Homo sapiens: one gene and its partner. The protein of the gene in region 1 interacts with the protein of each later gene in a biochemical or structural test. Each region holds a gene or a part of one and is shown in the gene's direction. Other genes may lie near its edges.

Region 1 (3,830 bases):
TCCTAAATCTATTAGGTGCTGTTTTACCTCTAGGCCCTTATGCTTGCTGCTTCCTCTCTGGAAAAACTCTTTGCTCACTTTTTTTTGTTGTTGTTGTTTTTTGAAACAAGGTCTCACTTTGTTACCCAGGCTGGAGTGCAGTGGCGCAATCTCAGCTTACTACAGCCTCAACCTCCTGGGTTCCAGCGATCCTCCTGCCTCAGCCTCCCAAGTAGCTGGGACTATAGGCGTGTGCCACCACACCTGGCTAATTTTTGTATTTTGTGTACAGACGGGGTTTTGCCATGTTGCCCAGGCTGGTCTTGAACTCCTGAGCTCAAGCGATCTGCCCGCCTCAGCCTCCCAAAGTGCTAGGATTACAGGCATGAGCCAGCCACCACGCCTGGCCTTTCGCTCACTCTTTACCTTGCCATCTGTTACTTATTCTTCAGGTCTTAAATCAGACATCACTTGTTCTGGGAAGTCTTTCTGGTTACCCTTTGGCAAATCTCCATTTCGTGCCTCATCTATTAATGTGTCCCCAGAGCACCATGTACTGCCTTTAACTTTCCTGTCATCCTGTTTGCCATGCTGCACTGTAATTCCTTACACTGTGATCCCTATGAAGACTGGGACTTGGTGGTTTTGCTTTTTTGTATCCTCAGCATCCAGCACAGTAACTAACTCAAAGTGGATACTCAAATGTTGAGAATTTGGTAGAAAAGATGTTTGCTTTAAGAACTTAGGAAAAAGCAAAGAAAACCATATGGCCTATTGGGGGTTAATCTTAATTACATCCTCCTCCTAAGATGTCATCTCTTGTTCATGCTTTAAGAGTCCAATTATGCTTTTGCAGCTATCGTTCTAATGGGTAATACACATGCTGTTGTGCTATGTAGCTAGAATAGAGATCTTTTTATTTCTTATGTACTTCTATCAGTTTGACTTGAAAGAAACAGGTATATTGGGAAGGGGAAGAGGGAGAAGAGACTGTATCCGTAAGTAATATGGTGACATTGGCAGTACTGAACGTGCTTATACATAGATAGAAGATAGAAGTAAAAGTGATGTTGCTTATAACCACAGTAAGTTTTATATCTTTTATTCTACAGTTATTTGTTTCATTACATCTGCCAAGACAGGATTGTATATCTTTGTATCACTGATGATGTAAGTAACTTGAAGACATATTGCTATTTAACTATGTGTACTGTTAATACAGCCAGTTCTTAATTATCTATACCAGGGGTCCCCAACCCCCAGGCTGCAGACCGGTACAGGTCTGTGGCTTGTTAGGAACCAGGCCACATAGCAGGAGGTGAGTGGCCTATGAGCATTACCACCTGAGTTCTGCCTCCTGTCAGATCAGCAGCAGCATTAGATTCTCATATGAGTGTGAACCCTGTTGTGAACTCTGCATCCGAGGGATCTAAATTGCATGCTCCTTAGGAGAATCTAATGCCTGATGATCTGAGGTGGAACAGTTTAATCCCGAAACCATTCACCCTCCCCCAGTCCTTGGAAAAATTGTCTTCTACAAAACCGGTCCCTGGTGCCAAAAAGGTTGGGGACTGCTGATCTGTACCTATAGTGGGCAAACGTGATGCGAACTTTACATAGCTGGAATTGTTAATATTTTGCATTTGTCATATAGAGCAGCAAATGTTAAGAAAACTTGATACTGGGGTATGTGCAAATCAACTCAATTTTGGTAGAGTTTTAGCTTAGCCTCTTGCAACTTCTATATTTATTCTATTTTGTAGTGAGAATTGATGTTCATAATTATAATTCTTTGATATCAAAACCTCTCAAAAATTGTTTACGTGGAATGTTAAATTAGATAGCATCATTTCTTCTATCAGTAGTTAATGAATCCTTTAATGTATGTGAACTTTGGAAAAACAAAATTACAATACATTATGATCAGCTATATAAACCTGTAGTTTACATTGGTTAGGTATGACTGTTTGTCGGCTCTCAGCCCAAAATTCTCAGTAACTTAATGATGTCATTAAGGTCCTTTCTCTTCTCTGCTTATCTCCGTGTCTCCTTCTTCCCAGACAGGTTGCCATTATGGTTTCGTAGAGCTACATACTTATTTATTCATGTCCGGAGTAGAGGGACTGTGTCTTCTTGAGTGTCTTATTGTAGGAATGAGGAAGCTTTTCCCAGCTGCATGCCCTCCCCTCCCCCTGCTTTCAAAGTGAACTTCCTTTCATGTCTTATTGGCTGCATGCTCATTTCTAAACTGCCTACTGGCAAAGAGACTTGGAATTGGCATGGTTGCCATAGATCAGGGTTCCTAATCTTTATTGTATCACAGACTCGTCACTTGTGGGACACTCCCAGAATGTTTTTGTTTTCTTTTTTTAATTTTCCTTTTCCAGAATGCTTTTAAATGTATAAAACACACACAATTCTAACAAAGCCAATTATATTGAAATATATATATATATAGTATTCAAAATATTTTAAAAACTTGATGTAGTAATATATATGCTTCTTTATGAACTCATTAACAAGATCTAGTCATAGGTCTAATAACTAATAGTCTTGATGTGATGGGTGTTGACAGTATTTTGAGATATCTGTAACTGTGATGGTATACAAAAAAAGATTTCTGTTGGTGACAGTTACAGGTACTGTTTAATACTACCCCGATTATGAATATACAACCTATATTCACAATTGAAATATAAGTTAACGATTGATAAAAATAATGATGTGATTTTCTTTTTTTCTATCCAAGTTCAAAGGCCCCTTGAATTTGGACCATTGACCCCAATTTAAGAACCCTTGGCTTAGACTAAGCATCTTGGGTGAAAGGGAAATGACTGTCAACCATAGTGATCATCACAATGATTTTTATCTCTGGCTTCACAATATTTTCCAAAAGTACGAAAAAATCTAGCTATATGTGAAATGACTGATGTGAAACAGCTTGGAATAGAAGGAAAATACTAATGAAATCTGGGATAGTTAGAGTCGAGCCTCATATTTCTTGAGCTATAATTTGATACACACATATACATGTATACATAAACACACATACACACATTCATTTTTTTCCTCTAAGGTATTCTTACAGAGAACACACATACTTTTTGGCTGGCTGGGATTAGACATGAGTATGTCACTTGATCTTTTCAAATATACCACCACTATTGAAAAAATTCGATTTGAAGTTAATATCAGTAGTAGTATCTGTATGTGTGAAAGACTCTATGATTATTATGGGATTTATTAAACATATTCTTGTGCTGGGCCTTCTAATAGATCTTATGAAATATATGGAGGAAGTAAAATTCAATTCCTGATGTCAAGAAGTTGATAACCTAGGTATCATTATCTTCAGTTGTCAATGACCAGATATATCTGGATTCATTCTCAGCTCTTTCATTTACTAGTTGTTGGACCTTTGGACAAGTTAGTTACTTTTTCAGAGCCTTCCTTTACTTATCTTTAAGATAGGATCAATGCTAGTTCCTCCTCAGATAATCATTGCTCAGTAAATGTTAGCTGTTTTTTATTGTTGTTCTTAATCACTCACATCATCTTTGTTTACTTTCTAAATGTGAGTTCTGTGTTGATCTCTTTTCAGGATTTTGAACGTTCCCGAGCCTTTAATTTTCTGAATGAGATAAAGAAGAGGTTCCAGACTACTTACGGTTCAAGAGCACAGACAGCACTTCCATATGCCATGAATAGCGAGTTCTCAAGTGTCTTAGCTGCACAGCTGGTAAGATCTTTCTCAGGATAAGGTATTTTGATTTATATCTTCTTCATTACCTTCAAACACTATGAATCTAGGGGGCCCTGACCTGCAATATAGTTTTCTGATTGTGTTACTG
Region 2 (3,830 bases), on another chromosome or scaffold:
ACAATGTTGATTAATTAAATTCATAGTCACACATCAAATAAATTCACATGTCCCGGAGGGGAAAAAAAAAAAACACATTCGCCTTGTCACAACCTACTGCAGATTTCAATGTCTTTCCACCAAGGTAAAACATGGTATCACAAGAGGAAATCCTAACTGATTTTCTTATTGTTGACTACAGAGGTCAACCTCAGCAGTGACTGACTTACTGGTAAGAACAAATCTGTATCCCTAAAAAGAGATGGGGGGAAATCCTATTTAAGGATTAGCATTTCCTTCTAAATGCTTAACAATGATTCCAGAGAAATTCAGTCAAATGATGCCTGCTCCCGAATGATGCTGAATAACAGCTGTACTGGGCTTATGGCTTGCTTTCTTTGGTTGTGGAAAAATATATTTCATCCTCTTCTTTGCTGTTGTTGATATGGTTCATATTACTCAAAGATGTCTAATTCTCATGTCTTAAATTGAGACTGTTGGCACTTTCTGCTGACTCATTGTGTCTTAATCTTCCAAGGTGGTCCATTTTTACTTAAAGAAAAAGGTTATTTTCCTCCAAAGTGGCAGGTTCTACAAAATGACCATCTGGTCCCAGCTTCCCCATCACTTCCTTTATTCAAATGACACTAGTCACAGATCTTGAACTTGAGAGATGACTTTCCATGCCTGTAACCTTGAATCAGTGGTTTCTGTCCTTTACTGATAACAGCAAGTAAAAAAATGAAAGTCTCTTAGGTGCCCCCCTGAGGCCAGAGTTCAGCCCTACACTCCTGCCTCATTCCTTTTTCAGAGAATTTTCTCAGTTGAGCTCTGAAAATCCTGCAAGTTGGACAGAGTTCCCTTTCCATGAAGAGTCTCAGACCAAGTTGTTAATCTCCTTTATTTATGTTCATCTTTGGTACAGTTTCAAAGAATAATAACTGGCAAATTCCAAAACAGTGAATTTCTTAAATTTCCCTGCAGTTATTCCGAAGTTGGTCTGGCAGCTAGGTATAGGTAAATCACACTGTGACTTCTCTATCAATAAACAGAAAATGCACAGAAATAAATGCCAGAAAGACTGCTAGGAAGAACACTGGCAAACTATTTCAATACGCATTAGCCTTGTTGAGTGAATTTTTTATTTTAATGGGAAAGTCCATTCCTAATTTATGCCAGAGAAATTGCTGAATGTATCTACTTTTTCCAATTCCATGATCACTGCCCATGTATTGCTTCATCATAAATCAGCTGCTATTATGGCATTCTTCATTAATTAATCCATTGAACAAATATTTATTGAACACCTGCCATGTACCAGGAAAACATACACTGGTTCCTAAAGTCAGAGCTGTAAATAAAATCATCATGTTTCTGCCCTCCATGTGTTATGCTAGGTGTCCCCTCTTGAGGTGTCATTATTTTAAAAGGCATGTTTCAATGGGATGCCTTTTAGAATCTAAGACATTAATTCAATGTAGAAAAGAGCTATGGCTCTCTAATCAAAATATACAATCTATTGAAGGTTTCTACTGAGCTGTCAGTATCTACAGAGAGATTGCTATATCATAAACAAATACATATTAAGAACCAGCCTCAGCCATCACCGAACTCAGTAAATATCTAAGGTATGTCTTTGTGTGAACTTGTCTCTATTTACATGGCAATCAACTAGGATGTCACTAAAATGTCCCTTAAATACATGACTATATTCCAGTATCCCAATCTGTTGGGATCTCTCCCTGTAGAGACCACTTTCTGCCGCTCATGGGAGGAAGGGGTCAAGCTTTAAGAAACATGGTACCTCCTGGGCCAGAAATCCTATTCCCAACTCCAAAACTCATGGAGCAATGCAAGAATAGGTTGACTAAGAAAGGATCCTTTGGATGAGAGTACTTCCCAATCCAATCCACTTTCCTCCTCTGAAAACTTCCTGTCATTAAACAAAGTTCAGTGATTCGGGATCAAGTAGAATTATGTAGTGATTCTGGATCAAGTAGAATTATGTCTTAATTTCCCAAACTCCTACTTCTAGAAATTCACCTCTTACCAATGAGCAATGCCCCTATCTCCCTTGTAAGATTGATCACACTGCTTTGTAGTTACCTACTTATGTATTTCTCTTTCTTAATAGACTTTGGAAGTCTTTGAGAGCAAGGGTAATATCTTAGCTTTCTTTGAATCTTCAGTACCTATAACAGTGCCTGCCACACCCATGTATGCAGGAAATAAGTGAGCGAATGGGGATACCAGCTACCCCTTTGCAGAGAAAAGAATTCTACCACTGTAAGTAATCCTGCTTTTTATTGATCAAATGTTATGATCAGAATAACTCAGGAATTGTTGTGTACCCTTGCACATAGATTCATCCTAAATATTGGAATAAAATTATGTCCCAAGGAATTACTTAGGTTTACCCTAACTAGCTGCCAAACTATGGCAAATGGTATAATATTCTAATCTGTTGTTTTATCACTTATGAGTCAGGAGTTAAAATGCTAACGAAGGATCAAAGGATTCTCAATAAAGGCATTGCTAAAATCAGGTTTATATTCAGAGATTAAAAGCCATTCACTAAGAGCATTTAAAGTCAAGCAGTTTAGCATATATGAATTATAAGTTTAAATGTTTTACTGTTCACTAGGATGAAAAGGATATTTCATACATCCATTTGAGACATATATTACATTCACCAGTGGGGTAGATTTATGGCTTTGGCCAACTTGTGTTTTCAGGGTCACATATTTGCTGCTGTGCTATTAGAATTGGCATGGTGGACACAAGTTTTTCATGTCAATTCCGCTTCCTTAAAAGTGTCCTTCAGAGACACCAGTCTCTGGGCTTTTCCTCTCAAATAGTCAGTGTCCTCTTGCCTGGGAGAGAATCATAAGCCTGGGCATGATTTGGTAAATAAGTCCCATTTGTCCTTAGAAAAAAACCTTCACCAGTTGAGCATTGAATTTTGCATATCTTTTTTCCCCATTCCTTCTCATGAAAACACGGGTTACTCTGCATCCAACTTTCTCCAGAGAAGACTGAAGATACTACCACTTAATGACCACAAGGAAAAAAGTAACTAACTTCCTAAATGTCTACTGTGTGCTGCACTGGGCACTTGATGTATGTTGTTTCCTTTATTTTCCATGGCAGCCTTAAAAGAGTTCGGAACACTTGTCTCTGACTGCAAAGTCCATGGTTTTCCCCACCACCCCATAAATTATCCCATGAGTTGCACAAAATACATTGAGATCCTCTAACAGAAAGCACACTGCTGATACATAGAACGTGAGTCAGCCAAATCTAAAAAGCTGAGTCCTCCAAGCTAAATAGCCAGGTGAGATATGGTGGTGTAAGTGACCAGAGAAACTATGTGTCCAAACAAGTTCATGGAGCAATGGGTGGAGAGTCAGCTGGCTGCATGCCAGCTCTGCCACTTCAATTGTATAACCCTGAACAATTTACCTAATCTGAACTGAGCCTCACTTTTATTTACATCTGTAAAAGGAGAGCAATTGCTGCCATGCATATATGTCAAGTGGTTGTCGTGAGACCTAAAGGAGCTAATGCTTGTGAAGTAGTTACCTCCACCACTCTGAGAAAGAGGAAGGGACTGTTGTTATGTTCAGTTACCTGCTATTTGCCATACCAGATTTCCAGGGTTCTTTATTATAGGTTACATGAAGGCCATATGCTTCTTTTCCTCTTTATTGTTGTGTTTGCTTAAAAACAAGTCTTGGTATCACATATTTTTTAGCTTGATCAGCATGCATAATAAAATGGGGAAATATGTCAACAGCCTTTGATTTTTCTATTTGGGGAAAGATTTTTAAATGCCTTTGATTAGCATCTCT

Evidence for each region.
Region 2: the proteins of VAMP7 (region 1) and SNAP25 form a complex in vitro, tested with the Homo sapiens proteins (one study listed by BioGRID).

What each region holds. Positions count from the first base shown.
Region 1 is NC_000023.11:155,894,532-155,898,361, forward strand, and holds part of VAMP7 (vesicle-associated membrane protein 7), read left to right. Parts: intron 1-1,091; coding exon 1,092-1,149; intron 1,150-3,580; coding exon 3,581-3,718; intron 3,719-3,830. UniProt on the Homo sapiens protein: Involved in the targeting and/or fusion of transport vesicles to their target membrane during transport of proteins from the early endosome to the lysosome. Required for heterotypic fusion of late endosomes with lysosomes and homotypic lysosomal fusion.
Region 2 is NC_000020.11:10,225,174-10,229,003, forward strand, and holds part of SNAP25 (synaptosomal-associated protein 25), read left to right. Parts: intron 1-1,504; exon of another isoform or gene 1,505-1,607; intron 1,608-2,113; exon of another isoform or gene 2,114-2,265; intron 2,266-3,830.